Linked DNA regions of Homo sapiens: region 2 is linked to region 1. Evidence: fine-mapped expression QTL. A gene starts in region 1. The other region holds a variant in brackets. All regions are shown on one strand. Distances are from middle to middle. Region 1 holds the start of METTL9 (methyltransferase 9, His-X-His N1(pi)-histidine). Region 2 overlaps METTL9 (methyltransferase 9, His-X-His N1(pi)-histidine).

The links.
Region 2: its variant is fine-mapped to the expression of METTL9 in whole blood (TOPMed, PIP above 0.99).

The regions. Positions count from the first base shown.
Region 1 is chr16:21,596,033-21,604,363 of GRCh38, reverse strand. METTL9 (methyltransferase 9, His-X-His N1(pi)-histidine) reads right to left here and starts at 4,787. Exons shown (of 5, transcript NM_016025.5): 1 at 4,466-4,787. The coding sequence starts at 4,630. LOC101927814 (a long non-coding RNA gene) reads left to right here and starts at 4,979. Exons shown (of 3, transcript NR_110930.1): 1 at 4,979-5,708; 2 at 6,605-6,730. RefSeq lists an enhancer at 3,508-4,072 and a silencer at 4,181-4,800.
Region 2 is chr16:21,624,117-21,632,447 of GRCh38, reverse strand. It overlaps METTL9 (methyltransferase 9, His-X-His N1(pi)-histidine), which reads right to left. Exons shown (of 5, transcript NM_016025.5): 4 at 7,333-7,517. Among named protein-coding and RNA genes, the nearest start is that of IGSF6, 24 kb to the left of the region's middle. The variant T/C (reference allele first, on the strand shown) is at 3,674.

The DNA.
Region 1 (8,331 bases):
TGGAAGCTATTAGGGTCTTCTAGGGCACCTTCAAAGAGAAACATAAAGACTCCTGGTATATCCAGCACAAGAAAGAGATTCTAGTGTTCTGTGAAACTGAAGCAAACACTTGGGGTTTCAACACAGATTATGAGGAAGCAAAGAAATCCTTTCTGAAGTCTCTTTGGTATTCAGCTGCAAAGGCCTCCAGACTCTCGAAGGCAGTTCAGAGAAGGACGCCAATCCATCAGTGTCTGTCCGGCTTAGCTGGCTGACTATCCTTGAAGCATTGTTAACTCATGCCTGACTCCAGTCTGCCTCCACAGGGTAAGTGAGGGGTAAAGGGACAGGAAACACTCTGTCCTTTAGCACAGTGTTTGGCTCTGGCTATGCTGTCCAAGTATTTTTTCATTTGGGGGAAAAAAAAGGATTTTAATTCTTTCTTGAATTCTTCATCACTTGTGGCATAGCGCAGTTCTGAGCTTATATAAGAAAGTGAAAAAATAAGTCACAAAAATATACACATACTTGCAATTTTAAGTTACAACTTAATAATTCCAGATATTGAATGTTATCTGTGCTTTTAAAAAACCTTGCAGTATGTCACCCGGAGAAATCGTTGTGGTTTGGTTCAGCGAGTTCTATAACAATTTTTTCACTCCATCAATTGAGAAGCTACTGAACCGCTATTATTACCAAGAACCTGGGGCCTAAGGGTCCTTTCAAAGTTTCAGTAGCTCCATAATAGTTGCATTAACTTTAAGCACTAGGTGCAATGCATCAAAAAGAATAGATCCTAAGTTTTTTGTTGTTGTCTTTTTAAATTCTGAGTCTGCCAACATTGCAAAGTGACAATATCTACTAGTTTCTCACTGCCTGCCTCTATTTCTTCCCAGTGAGTCAATCTACCCACCCTGCAACCTGTGATTAAGAATATGCTGTTGGAGGCTGGTTGCAGTGGCTCACTCCTGTAATTCCAGCACTTTGGGAAGCCGATGTGGGAAGATCACTTGAGGCCAGGAGTTCAAGACCAGCCTGGCCAACATGGTGAAGCCCTGTCTCTACTAAAACTACAAAAATTAACCAGGTGTGCTGGCACGTGCCTGTAATCCCAGCTATGGAGAGGCTGAGGCATGAGAACCGCTTGAACCCAGGAGGTCGAGGATGCAGTGAGCTGAGATTGTGCCACTACACTCCAGCCTGGGTGACACAGTGAGACCCTGTCTCCAAAAAAAAAAAAAAGCTGTTTGTTAAGGAAGCTGGGAATTTCTCTTGGAAAAAGTCTTTATTCTGTAAGAAGCCACGTAGTAAATGTTTTAGGCTTGCAGGCCATACAGTAGCAAATATGCTGCTATTGTAGCCAGGGAGCTCATAGACCACAGGTAAATGAATGTGGTAGTTCTCTTTCAATAAAACTTTATTTGTGGGCTGGGTGTAGTACCTCACGCCTGTAATCCCAGCACTTTGGGAGGCCCAGGAAGAAGGATCACTTGAGGTCAGGAGTTTGAGACCAGCCTAACCAACATAGTGAAACCCCATCTCTACTGAAAACTACAAAAATTATCTGGGCGTGGTGGTGTTCACCTGTAATCCCAGCTACTCGGGAGGCTGAGACATCAGAATTGCTTGAACCTGGGAGGCAGAGGTTGCAGTGAACCAAAATTGGGCCACTGCGCTCCAGCCTGGGTGACGAAGCGAGACTCCATCTCAAAAAAAAAACACTTTATTTGTAGACACTGAAATAAATTTGAATTCCATAAATGAAACTTCATGTATTACAAAATGTTATTTTGATATTTTCTTGGTAACCATTTAAAAATATAAAACTATTCTTATTTCATAGGCTGTAAAATAAGTCTGTGAGACCAGTCTGGCCTCCCAGCCACTTCCCTGCTCTAAGTGAAACCCTGCTTCTTGCTTGCCCAAAGTGAAACATAATCCCAGTTTTGAAGCTAGCACACCAAACCAAGTTACTAAAATGGCACTGCTACTACAGTTTTAGAGCAGCTTTAGCCCAAAGGAGCCTTGCCTCTCCAAACTATACTAACAAAATAGCCATTTTTAACGAATAAACATTGCCCAAGATCTCTCTTTTAACCACAGAATCCTCCATCATAATTCCTTAATAAAATAACCAGAAGGAACACTTTTGCTAAGTATGGTTCAATCAAATCCACAACCCTACTTTTATGCAACTCCAAAAGGCCCAGATGTGGCTGGCTATGGAACTCACACACCCAACTGAACACTTAGAAGACCTTGTATAAAACTATTAATCTGAAGGAGGAAAAACAGTTACAGTTACTTCACAAGCAACGAAGTTATAAGGCAAACCCAGGATCCTGGAATATTAAGTGGAAAACAAATTATCAACTCCAGCCACAGTGCAGAAAGGACAGTTTCCTACTTTATCTCATGGTGGTTTCTACACACCTTTCTTCTGTTCCTTTTAATCTTTATTCATGCACGATTATTTTCATAATATGAATGTATTCATGTCAAAATAATGTCTGGATTCATTATTCTAAGGAAAAGAGTTGACCCATCCCCCAAATATTCAGAAAACACCATATTAAGTCTTCACCCTAAAGAAATTATCTGCTGAATTGTTAGTGAAGGGGTACACACACACACACACACACACACACACACACAGAATATAAATACGGTATCTGAAATAAACGTATCTGAAACCAGTATTAGTTTTCATTAGAACTTAACAGATTCAGCTTTTAAAAGGTACAGTCAGAAAGTATCCTCTGCTGGGAGATATTCTGAGGCTATGTCTACAGCTGCAATTCCGCCTCCATACACATCACAGTGTTGAAATAGTGTTTCAATTTTAAAATAAGTGCAATTCTTTTATGAGCACTAAAAACCTACCAAGTGGCTGCAGTAGGGGTAATCATGATAAGTGTTATAAATACCAATAGCTAAGAGACTCAACCATAATCCCCCATCAATGGAGATAAATCGCTTTTTCTCCTATCCAGGACCTTATTTCTATCAACTGCTTAAAAATGTTAAAAATGACATTTCTAATTCATTGTCTACCCCATTGTTCCATATGTGACATTCTGGTAACTGTACAGTCAACGGTACAGTACCTTTGAGTTGTCTCTATAAGAATGAACTAGTGTAAGCAAATAATCCATAGGAATAAATGTGGTTTTGCAATTTAAGTTTACATACATTCCTAACCATATCATACAAGTGATCAATGATACTGATATTGCACCTAACAAACTGCAATGGCTGGAGGCTTTCAAAAAAATTTACAGAAATTTAGGATTCCTTTAACAATAGAAAAAAGCCCAATATACATATTACTAAAGACTAAATGCTACTTTTCTAAATTGCTCTATCTCCTTCTTAGACAATTCTCTACCCTCATTAAAACACATGAAATCAACCTGGGTGTAAATTCTCTGAACACCTGGCATAATAAAAAAGTAATGTAGGAAAATGAGAAATATATGAAAATGATGAGACACAAGATGATATAGGGAATAATTAATACTCTATGGAAAAGCAAAATGTATTATAAATGCTAGCTATGACAAGCCAACACTCTGGCAGAGTTCAAAAGCCTCTTTTCAATGAATTTAACATTAACTGCAAACTATGTTAAGGTCATATACGAAATATCTCACTTAATTCTACAGTTAACCTGTACACGTTTAAGTGGCGCAAGACTGAGCTAATGAAAAGCCTACCTACCCGGTCACAGCGTAACGCTCACGATGCATAACTAAAACTCCCTCCCGTCCCGTTCTGTTTTAAAAACCCTTCCTGTAAAACTTGCATAATCTTCCTCCTCATCACACACAATCTTTCTAGCAGGCTGACTAAATCCAAGTTTAAAGGAGATCTCTGCTAGGTAGGAGGGGAAGGTTCCGTAGGATGGGAGCGACAACCTGTCAAACCCATTTTTTAAGTGCTTAGGGAGAAATGTCACCCCAATCAGCCTGGAGAGTTCAATGGCTTGCGATGTACAGTTACATTTCTTCACGACCCTTTGTACGTTCTGGGATTCAACGAGACAACAAGAGGGGCTGGCTTTTCGTTTTGTTTCTCGGGGTAATGGATCTGGCCGGGTCTCTTCAGTCTCAGGCCTCGGTGCCAGGCGGGCGCCCCCAGCCACGCTCTGGCCCCAAAGTTCCCCAGTCCCGCTGCCGGGCGTCCGCAGTCACCGCCCGGGACCCAGGAACAATGCGGGGCTCCGGGCCGCTCACGATCGGGCCCGGGAGGCCATGCCCCGCCTGCGCTGCGGAACAAAAGGCGCTCGCGGGGCCGCGGCCGGGTGCCCGGGGCTCGCGGAGTCGACGCCCGGCGGGGAAGGCGCGGGGAAAACTTTCCAAGGGGCCGAGGCGGAGGGGCGAGGGCCGGGCCGCCCCCTCGCGGAGCCGTCCCGCACAATAGCCGGGCCCAGCGCGGGAAGGCCGGGCCGCCACGCCCCCGCCCCGGCCCCGGCCCCAGCCCGTACCTGGTGGTTCTCCTTCCTGCCGCCCGCGGCCGCCGCCGGCCCACCCGGGCCGCTAGTCATGTTCACGTACAGGGAGCGGGTGAGCGGGCTCCGCAGCGTCCACATCCTCCGCGCCAGCCACACGGACGCCAGGCTCAGGCACAGCCAGCCCGCCAGCAGTCTCATCGGGGGCCGCGGCCGCTCGCTCGGATCACCGCCGGCGCCGGGGCGAGGAGGAGGAGGCACCGCCGCCTCCGGCCACCGCCGCCACCGCCCGAGCTCGAGCCATCGCGGCCGCCTTGCCCATCCAGCCCCCTTCAGGGCAAAGGCTGGGGGTGGGGAGGAGCAGCCGGCGCGCAGCCTCGGCACCTCCCCCTTCCCTTCCGGCCGCGGAACGCCGCTGCCCCCTGCACCAGTTTCCATCCGGAGCACTTACGAGCGGCCGCGTCGCTTTCTCCCCCGGCGCCCTCCCTCCGTCCAATGAGCGGGCCGCTGGGAGGCGGGACAAAGGGAGCGCGCATCCGCCCGGAGCGCGTTCTCGTGTCCCGGCCCTGCCTTGGCCTCTAGTAAATGGCGGAGGTGGTTTTAATTTTTTTGAGGGCTGAGGAGATCACTTCCGAAGGCGGTAACTGCAGCCTCCCTGCCCCTCCAAGGTGGTGCTGGAAGGACCTCCAGTCTTTCCTCGCCTCATCCCACTCCACGGCGGGACTTTGACAGGGTTACCTCTCGACCCTCATCCCACTCCACGGCGGGACTTTGACAGGGTCGTGCAGTTAACCCCGGGGGCGCAAAGAGGGGAGTCATTCCTTTCGTGCATCCTGACACACACAGGTTCTTCCCGGAGACGAATGGTGCCAGTGATGGTTGCCCGCTCGGATGCGTAGTTTCCAGTTTACATTTAGAACCGACCTGCCAGACTCCCTCCTCTACTCTCCCCACCACCACGACCCGCCTGCCCCGTTCCCCAAGCCTGAGAAGTTGCTGGCTACGTGTTTCTATAAAGAATGAGTGAAAATTCTGCCTTTTGGGGAAGCTACCGCAGCTGGGGTACCCACAAGTAATGTTTTAGATGTATTGATGGCCCTGCCCAAGAATGAAGACCTCAAGTTAGACTCCTTGGCTGCCTTGTTTCCTTGAATTAGCACAGGGAAGTTGGACCCAACACTCTTAAGAGTGAACTCAGCTCTGGGAGCAGTGTTTAACCCGGATATTTATTTGATCATTTATAACACGAGGAGACCTAGCAACATTTCAGAACTGAAGGGTTAGTTACACTGTGTTCCTGTCTGCAGTTCTTCCTGCTATTATCCAAGCCACAATTAAGGAGTAACATTTCGTGGGAGTCCCTAACTTTAATACTTTCCTAGGTTTGTTTGGAAAGTGCTTTTAATTTAACTGCACCAGAAATAATGTAAATGTGTCTAAGTTCAAAACAAAAGAAGTAAGCCTTTTGGTTAATTCAGCGTTGCACATCAGAGATTTTCATTTATGAAACAGTGGGGTGGTGAGCCACAGATGGGGAACAAAATCATTCCTTACCCAACAGCTTTTTTTTTTTTTTTTTTTTGAAACGGAGTGGAGTCTCGCTCTGTCTCCAGGCTGGAGTGCAGTGGCTCGATCTCGGCTCACTTCAAACTCCGCCTCCCGGGTTCAAGCAATTCTTCTGCCTCAGCCTCCCGAGCAGCTGGGACTACGGGTGCGCGCCACCATGCCCAGCTAATTTTTGTGTTTTTCGTAGAGACGGGATTTCACCATGTTGGCCAGGATGGTCTCCATCTCTTGACCTCGTGATCCGCCTGCCTCGGCCTCCCAAAGTGCTGGGATTACAGGCGTGAGCCACCGCACCTGGCCCAACAGCTCTTTCATTAGCTTTTAAGAATCTCAGCTTGGCACCTTTGGCTAACAAGGATATCTTGTTGCCTAATGTAACAGGCTGTAACAACAAACAAAAAGGCACAGGGTGGGTGGGGTTCGGTATTTTGTGTTCTCTCTTTCCAATATACTCCCTGACTGCTTCCTGCCAAAACCCCGAAAAGCCCAAGCCTTACTAAATCTAGTTCAAACCTCTAGTGGTCCTGGCCCAAGTCATCAAAAAGGAACTATGGTAGCAAGTCCAATAACTGTTTATTTACTATGACACCTCTCCTTCCTGTCTCTTAGGATCAGTGTAACAGACAAAGCAACTCTGTCACAAAAGGAAGCCTTCATCTTTTTAAAGTGGGGGTGAAAGCAGCAGGAGTGCATAAAATGGCATATTTCCTTTCTGAAGACAAAGGAGACAAAAAGGTATGCCCCAGCTATAGAGTGAGACCACATAGCTGTAGCTGAGAGACTGCAAAATGTTATCAGATGAACAAGCAAGTAGATGGCTGCTGTAGTCAGAAGGATTTTGGGGTCAGTTGACTGCCACGAAGCCTAACAGCTCAAAGGAGCAGATTTTGTTTTATATCTGAGCAGCTGGCCTAGAAAAATAAATCACTCATACATTTAAAATACTCTATAATAACCACCAAACACTCAAACCCATGCTATTTACATTTAGCAGGCACAGGAAGAAACCAGAGCATCCGATGATCAAATGATTTGCCTGAAGGTAGCAGAGTAAATTCAATAGCTGACCTTTTCATAGAACTTGGTATCCCAGCTCGTGGTCTTTCGATCCATCTAAGAAGCTTTGCTGTCTCTTCTCAGAGAGCCTCCTGAATTACAAATGAGGAGAAACGAAAACAGCAAGAGTAAATATACGAAGCAGAAGTTCAGATTGCCCACTGGGGACAGCCCCCTTCCTTCATCTACTAGAATGTCACTACCGTATATTAAAACCTCAATTCTCCATAATGGAGACGGGAAGGGGCAAGATGACACAAAAAGCCAAATAGCCAATACTCGTTCTAACATGATCTTGAGATGCAGTTAGTAATATTCAAAAGATACACAAATGACCCTCTGCACCGAACTCTGCTCATTGACCCCAGGTGTCCCACTTGGGTCACAGCCCTGTACACAGGCCCAAAATTTTGGCGGGATCACTTTCCTATCTAGATCTCTAGGCAAAGGCTTTTTGTTATTGTTGTTCTTTGAAGTTACAAAGCTTGGCATTTTCATATTCTCTTTTCAATTACAAAGTATCATGTTAAGAGAATCCACAAGCAGAGAGTTTGGATCTGTACAAAACCTATTGATGATTGTTATCTCCTTGAAGAGATAATGATTTAAAAAGAACTCATATAGACCAGGCAGGGTGGCTCATGCTTGTAATCCCAGCACTTTGGGAAGCCAAGGCAGGTGGATGGCTTGAGCCCAGGAGTTCAAGGCCAGCCTGGGCAACATGGAGAAACCCCGTGTCTACAAAAAATACAAAAATAAGACAGGCGTGGTGACATGCACCTGTAGACCCATCTACTCAGGAGGCTGAGGTGGGAGGATCACCTGAGCCTGGGAGGCTGAGGCTGCAGTGAACTGAGATTGTGCCACTGCACTCCAGCTTGGGTGACCCTGTATCAAAAAATAAAAATAAAAATAACTCATATAATCACTTTTTTTTTCCCGAGATGGAGTCTTGCTCTGTTGCCCAGGCTGGAGTGCAGTGGCACGATCTCGGCTTGCTGCAACCTCTGCCTCTCGGGTTCAAGCAATTCTCCTGCCTCAGCCTCCTGAGTAGCTGGGATTATAGGCACCTGCCACCACGCCTGGCTATTTTTTGTATTTTTAGTAGAGATGGGGTTTCACCATGTTGGCCAGGCTGGTCTCAAACTCCTGACCTCGTGATCCGCCTGCTGCAGCCTCCCAAAGTGCTAGGATTACAGGCGTGAGCCACTGCACCTGGCCATAATCATGTTTTTATGGACAGATATTTTTTATGCTTCTTAATATTGTTTTGTATACCT
Region 2 (8,331 bases), 28 kb before region 1:
ATATACCGATGGAAGTTCATTTGTGGAGAATGGGATACAAAGGGCAGATTATGCCATAGTTCATGATGTAACCGTACTTGAAAGTAAGCCTCTTCCCCCAGGGACCAGTGCCCAGTTAGCATAACTAGTGGCACTTACCTGAGCCTTAGAACTGGAAAAGGGAAAAAGAATAAATGTGTATACAGATAGCAAGTATGCTTATGTAATCCTACATGCCAATGCTGCAATATGGAAAGAAAGGGAGTTCCTAACCTCTGGGGGGAACCCCCATTAAATACCACAAGGCAATTATGGAGTTTTTGCATGCAGTGCAAAAACCCAAGGAGGCGGCAGTCTTACACTGCCAAAGCCATCAAAAGGGGAAGGAGAGGGGAGAACAGCAGGATAAGTGGCTGGCAGAGGCAGGGAAAAACCAGCAGAAAGGGAAGAGAGGAAGAGACAGAGGGAGTCAGAGAGAAAGAAAGAAAGAGACAAAGTCAAAGAGACAGAGACAAAGAGGGAGTCAGTGAGAGAGAGAGACAAAGAAAAAGTCAAAGAGAAAGAGAGATGGAAGTAGTAAAGAAAAAACAGTGTACCCTATTCCTTTAAAAGCCAGGGTAAAGTTAAAACCTATAATTGATAATTGAAGGTCTTCTCTGTAACCCTGTAACACTCCAATACCACCTTGTTGTCAGTGTAAACAAGGGCGTAGCGCGAAAGCACTGAGGCCACTGACAACCCATAGCCTTCCTATCAAAAATCCTTAACCCAGCAGGTTTCCTAACAGGGGATCTAAATCTTAATCACCATACAAAGGTCCAATCAGACATAGGAGGAACTCCCTTCAGGACAGGACGATAGATGGTTCCTCCCGGGCGATTAAGGAAAAACGACACAATGAGTATTCAGTAAATGATAAGGAAACTCTTGTAGAAACAGAGTTAGGAAAATTGCCTAATAATTGGTCTGCTCAAACTTGCAAGCTGTTTGCACTCAGCTGAGCCTTAAAGTACTTACAGAATCAGGAAGGAGCCATCTATACCAATTCTAAGTTAATATACACTAAACGAGGTCTTATTAATAGCAAAGAATAATTGAAATCCCAAACTTAAAAGGTTTTCAACAAAAGTAAAGTTTGCTAAAAGTTAACAGTGTAAACATATATTATCCTAACTTCTAATCTTGTGGAAATCAGACCCTATCAATACTCTTCAAAGCTCAAGTCCGTCAGCACAGAGCCATACAACTAATACCCCTATTTATAGGGTTAGGAATGGCTACTGCTACAGGAACCGGAATAGCCAGTTTATCTACTTCATTATCCTACTATTACACACTATCAAAGGATTTCTCAGATAGTTTGCAAGAAATAACAAAATCTATCCATACTCTACAATCCCAAATAGACTCTCTGGCAATAGTGACTCTCCAAAACCCCTGAGGCGTAGACCTCCTCACTGCTGAGAAGGGAGGACTCTGCACCTTCTTAGGAGAAGAGTGTTGTTTTTACACTAACCAGGCAGGGATAGTACGAGATGCCGCCCAGCGTTTACAGGAAAAGGCTTCTGAAATCAGACACCACCTTTCAAACTCTTGTACCAACCTCTGGAGTTGGGCAACATGGCTTCTCCCCTTTCTAGGTCCTGTGGCAGCCATCTTGCTGTTACTCACCTTTGGGCCCTGTAATTTTAACCTTCTTGTCAAATTTGTTTCCTCTAGAATGGAGGCCATCAAGCTATAGATGGTCTTACAAATGGAACCCCAAATGAGCTCAACTAACAACTTCTACCGAGGACCCCTGGACCAACCCGCTGGCCCTTCCACTGGCCTAAAGAGTTCCCCTCTGGAGGACACTACAACTGCAGGGCCCCTTCTTCGCCCCTATCCAGCAGGAAGTAGCTAGAGTGGTCATCAGCCAAATTCCCAACAGCAGTTGGGGGTATCCTGTTTAGACGGGGGATTGAGAGGTGACAACGTGCTAGCAGCCCTCGCTCGCTCTCGGCGCCCCCTCGGCCACGGCGTCGGCTCTGGCTGTGCTCGAGGAGCCCTTCAGCCCACGGCTGCACTGTAGGGGCCTCCTCTCTGGGGCTGGCCGAGGCCAGAGCCGGCTCCCTCTGCTCACAGGGAGGTGTGAAGGGAGAGGTGCAGGCGGGAGCCAGCGTGGGTTCCGGGTGGGCGCAGGCTCGGCAGGCCCCGCACTTGGCGCCACCAGCCAGCGCCTGCTGGGCTTGATCGGGGGACAAGCTCCCACTGGGCTGTCGGAGTGCCCAGGCTAGGTGCCGCAAAGTCCCGCAGCCAGTGCCATTGAGAGGTGAAGCCAGCTGGGCTTCTGGGTCGGGTGGGGACCTGGAGAACTTTTCTGTCTAGCTAAAGGTTTGTAAATGTACCAATCAGCACTCTGTGTCTACCTAAAAGTTTGTAAACACACCAATCAGCACTCTGTGTCTAGCTAATGGTTTGTAAACGCACCAGTCAGCGTTCTGTGTCTAGCTAATCAGGTAGGGGACTTGGAGAACTTTTGTGTCTTGCTAAGGGATTGTAAACGCACCAATCAGCACTCTGTGTCTAACTAAAGGTGTAAACGCACCAATCAGCGCTCTGTCAAAACGGACCAATCAGCTCTCTGTAAAATGGACCAATCAGCTCTCTGTAAAATGGACCAATCAGCAGGCTGTGGGTGGGGCCAGATAAGGGAATAAAAGCAGGCCACCCAAGCCAGCAGCACCAACCTGCTGGGTCCCCATCCATGCTGAGGAAGCTTTGTTCTTTCGTTCTTTGCAATAAATCTTACTGCTGCTCACGCTTTGGGTCCGTGCCACCTTTAAGAGCTGTAACACTCACCGCAAAGGTCTGCAGCTTCACTCCTGAGGCCAGCAAGACCAGGAACCCACCAGAAGGAACTAACACCTCCAGACAGGCCGCCTTTATGAACTGTAACACTCACCGCAAAGGTTTGTAGCTTCATTCCTGAAGTCAGAGAGACCAAGAACCCACCAATTCCAGACACAGAACAATAGAAATTTATGAGTTCTGGTGAGGACCCTCTTTCTAGGTACAGGCTGCTGACCTCTTGTTGTATCCTTGCATGGCAGAAGGTAGAGAGAAGCAAGGTCTCTCGGAACTCTTAAAAGGGCATTCATCCCATTCAGGAAGGCTCTGCTCTCATGATCTCATCTAATCCTAATCACCTCCTAAAGACCCCTTCCTAATACCATCACGATGGGGGGTGGGGGCCTCAAAATATATATCTGGGAGGAACACAAACAAACACGCAGTCTATAACACAACTTTAAGAGGGAAATGTAATCACAGCACTTTGGGAGACTGAGGGGGCATCACTTGAGGTCAGGAGTTCAAGATCAGCCTGGCCAACATAGCGAAACCCTGTCTCTACTAAAAATACAAAAATGAGCCGGGTGTGGTGGCACACATCTATAACCCCAGCTACTCAGCAGGCTGAGTCAGGAAAATCACTTGAACCCAGGAGGCGGAGGTTGCAGTGAGTAAGCCAAGATCGTGCCACCACATTCCATCCTCGGTGACAGAGTGAGACTCCATCTCCAAAAAAAAAAAAAAGAAACATCTCAAGCCAAACAACAGCAACTTCAAGTAAAAAAAAAAAAAATTAGCATCATATTTAAAGTAGTAATATTTTCATTAAAGTTAGAAACAAGGCCAGGTGCAGTGGCTCACA[T/C]CTATAATCCCAACACGCTGGGAGGCGAAGGCAGGCCAATCACTTGATTCCAAGAGTTCAAGACCAGCCTGGACAACGCCGCCAGACGCCCTCTCTACCAAAAAAATACAAAAGTTAGATGGGTGTGGTGGTATGCACCTGTAGTCCCAGCTACTCAGGAGGCTGAGGTGGGAGAATAGCTTGAGCCCAGGAGGTCAAGGCTGCAGTGAGCTGTGACAGCACCACTGCACTCCCGTCTGGGCAACAGAGCAAGTCCCTTTCAGAAAAGAAAGAAAAAGAAAGAAAGAAAAAAAAGTGGGGGAGGACAGGGGAGGGTGTTTTGTTTTTAAACATTACTAAGCAAATTGCTATCTAGAGACCTCCTCTAGTAAAGTTATACATCTAGTGGTGTGCTGGTAAATGTGTAACTACCAGCTTGGAGAAGAAAATGGCTATTTGCAGTGTTTGCCAATTTCTATAGTGTAAATACTCCCATCATGGTCAATTTCAATAATGGCCATGTTTAACAACCAGTTCACTTAAATTCCTACCAAAACAACAATCAGCTCTCATGAACCAGTCCACGCCAGCTCCAGCATCTACAGCTTACATGTAGACAACCATGTGGAGACATATGTGCTGGTAAGAACTACTTTCCTAGATACATTTAAGTGGAAAAAGGCAACAGAAGTTATTTATAATTGGGAACTGCCTGTATAATTTTTTTAATGTACATACAGACTTACATTTACATAGACTATCTTTTAAAGAATATTCAAGAAACCTGAACAAGATTGTGGAACTGGACTGGATGAGAAACTTTTTTTGTTTTGTTTGTTTTTTGAGATGGAGTCTGGCTCTGTCACCCAGGCTGGAGTGCAGTGGTGCAATCTCGGCTCACGGCAAGCTCCGCCTCCTGGGTTCACGCCGTTCTCCCACCTCAGCCTCCCCAGTAGCTGGAACTACAGGCGCCCACCACCACACCCGGCTAATTTTGTTTTTATATTTTTAGCAGAGATGGTGTTTCACTGTGTTAACTCAGGATGGTCTCGATCTCCTGACCTCATGATCTGCCTGCCTTGGCCTCCCAAAGTGCTGGGATTACAAGCATGAGCCACCACGCACAGCCCAGAAACTTTTTATTGTAAACCCTCTAGTAAGTTGCTTGAAGTATTTTTTTTTAATTACTGAATTACTTTTTAATAAAAATTACAATTTTGAAAAATTAAACATCATTAAATTTTTATTTTTACAATATAATTATCCTTCTCTTGACTTCATATCTTTCCTTCTTTGGGGGGTGCTTAAAATAATTCTCACTAGATTCAATAACCCCTAGCCAAAACTGGGTCAGTAAACCAAATAAACTGAAATTAGAATGGTATTTTTTTCATTTTTTTTCCAAATAGCAAAACTGCTGTGGTTCAACTTCAAGCCATTTACCAAAACAATTACCTAAGTAATCATTTCACCTACAACTACTTTTAGTTAAAAAAAAACAAATTAAGCCAAGTATGCAAAGCACACTCAGATATCCTCCAACAGTCCAGCATTCATGAATCTACACAGCAAAACCATTTTGCATCTCCCAGTCCTCATGGTTTCACATGGAAATCATCAGGATCTAATTAGTGACTCAGAGAAAGAAAGCAATAATAGAGTGCCGTGGCGCGCCTGCAAAATTTATAGGTCACTAAAAGTCACCCATAGCAACAAGGCTTCTTGTCTCAGGTCTGCAGTGTGTCACATGCCAGACTCCTCAGACTCAACAGGCAGCTCTGCACATCCACAATCAAGGAGCTTGTTTTCCACACTTCATGGAGACTTCCCTCTTGTCTAGTTTGACTTCCTCTCCATTTTTAGCATCAGAAACACAAGGAAATAAAATTCGTGGTTAGATTGATGTTTCTTCCCCCTGCTCTTTCATCTCCTGCTATGCCAGGAAGTAGCATTAAAGTTCTATCATGCGGTTGCCCAACAGGACACAGGAACCCAGGACCTTCCAACCTGATGACTAGTGAGTGCAATACAGAGAGCTGGAGCTGAGGCTTAATTACACAGGAAGGAGTAGCACTGAAGTAAGATCAGGTTGCTGAATCACGAAGGAGGACATTTTGCAACATATAGATGATATATATACACTCACATTTAAAAGCATTTTTTCTTTACCATGACAAACCACTCGACAACAGGAACATAAAAATGGAGATCTAAGATGGGAAAGGGGAGATCTGTTCTCTCTGCTCTTTTCCACACCCTTCTATATCGAAAGAATTCCCCATTTTCCCCATTATCAACACAAATCTGAAACCATTTGGTAAATATTAAGACAAGCATTAAATCTGAAGGCACTAAGATCTGGGGAGAAAAAACACATACAAGAAATTAAATTAATTTGTGACACCACAAATCCACACAGAATCCAATGGTTATATGAAACGGGCATTATTCCTTAAGACATAGATTTTCATATTTGATAATAATGACATTTGCAAAATCCTAATAGATTTCTTCAAAATGTCTGTGAGCTCTTAAGAGTTTCTGAAGTCAAGGTCAATCGAGGCAGTGAAATAGAAAATCTGAAGATTTTTCAGCCAGGGATGGTGGCTCGCACCTGTAATCTCAGCATTTTGGGAGGCAGAGACAGGAGGATCACCTGAGATCAGGAGTTAGAGACCAGCCTGGTCAACATGGCGAAACCCCATCTCTACTGAAAATACAAAAATTAGCCAGGCATAGTGGCATGTGCCTGAAGTCCCAGTTACTTGGGACTCAGAAGGCTGAGGCCGGAGAATGCCTGAACCCACGAGGTAGAGGTTGCAGTGAGCCAAGATCGCACCACTGCACTCCAGCCTGGGCGACAGAGCAAGGCTCTGTCTCAAAAAAATAAATGAAACACTGAAGATTTTTAAATAGTAACTTGTATTATTCATAAAATAAATAATTTTATATTAATGTACATTAACTTATGAAAATGCAGGAGACTTAAAATCATAACTTTCAAGATGACCTAAAATGCAAACCACACAAACTAAAACTATAACTTAATGTGGCATTAAGTCAGAATGGCCAGAAGTCACAGTAACTATGAAGTGATATGAAATCAACCCGTTTCTTCTAACATATTCTTCATTCAATATTGCTGAAGAGCAAGACCATGCAATCAAAAAATCAAATGTTACAGAAAGAAATGATACATGCTGCAACAACACACATGGTCTTCAAAAGAGAAAAAAACAGATAAAAGCATTTATCATTTTTAGAGTCTGGCACAAGAGATGCAAAACGGAAAACAAAACAGCCATGACATTCAGCAAGTATATACGACCAGATTTAAAGGCACTGTTTATTGCTCGATTCAGTTGTAAAGCTAATAAATAAATGGTTCAAGCTCCATTTAAAACCAGAGATACAGTTGCATTTTTAGCTTTCAATCTCAAGCAGTCAGACCCAGCTAAATATTAATTATTACCACTGCAAGGGGAATGCTAGACCTCTATAAAGTCCACCTTAAGGTGAACATTAACCAAGATGGTGTTTTACATGGATTAACTGGATTACTTTAAACTGCAGGCTATTATAAGACATACTAGACAATATTTAATTGTACACAGCACAAAATCACAAATACCAATAAACAGCTATCCTCAGTAAGAGCTAGCCTGACTGACCACACTTACCGTTTTCCACATAGGGATGAAAGGGGAGGACAAGGGCAAGGATGACCCTGCCTCTAGTTGGCTCCAAGACACTTCTGATATCTTTTAACAAAGTCAGGGGCTGATCACAGCGGTCCAGCAAGTTCAGGCAGCTGATGACATCATACTGGAACCCCGTATTCTGCCATTCATTTATACCAAGGACTCTAGAAAAATCAGAAATAACTGTATTAACATAAAGTCCCTCTAAAGACATCTTTAAAAATAACTGAGATGACAATAAAGGCTTTAACTTTGTCTTCTAAATTAAGTTCAAAATCTTCTGTTATAATTTATGTTTGCAATAATGACATGGCCAAGGAAGAGAAAAATAGCAACCATTTTTTTTTTTTTTTAATTTTTTCTTTTTTGAGACACAGCCTCACTCTGTTGCCCAGGCTGGAGTACAGTAGAGCAATCTCGGCTCACTGCAACCTCTGCCTCCCAGGTTCAAGTGATTCTCCTGCCTCCGCCTCCCCAGTAACTGAGATTACAGGCAGTTGCCACCATGCCCGGCTAATTTTTGTGTTTTTAGTAGAGACGGGGTTTTACCACATTGGCTAAGCTGATCTTGAACTCCTCACCTCAAGCGATCCGACTGCCTCGGCCTCCCAAAGTGCTGGGATTACAGGTGTGAGCTACCACGACTGGCCCATATTTCTTTAAATTTAGCATTTCACCTATTTCCAAATCTCAACACATACGAAGTTTCCTTTACAAGAACTAATCATGTTTAATAAGTATGAAGATGTAACCTGACAAAGTTATGAAACTAAAACATCAAATTCTTTTGAATATCAGTTAATGAACAAGAGTCCAGCTTTTTACCATTCATTGGAACTTAATCAAAAAATGCATCATATAATTAATGTTTTCTATTCCTAGGATCCCTTCTATTCTTAAAAATGGCTGGGAGTGGTATAAAATAATTTCCATTGATAACTTATGACCTTTGAGCACATTTCCGTTCCCAGGAAAGAC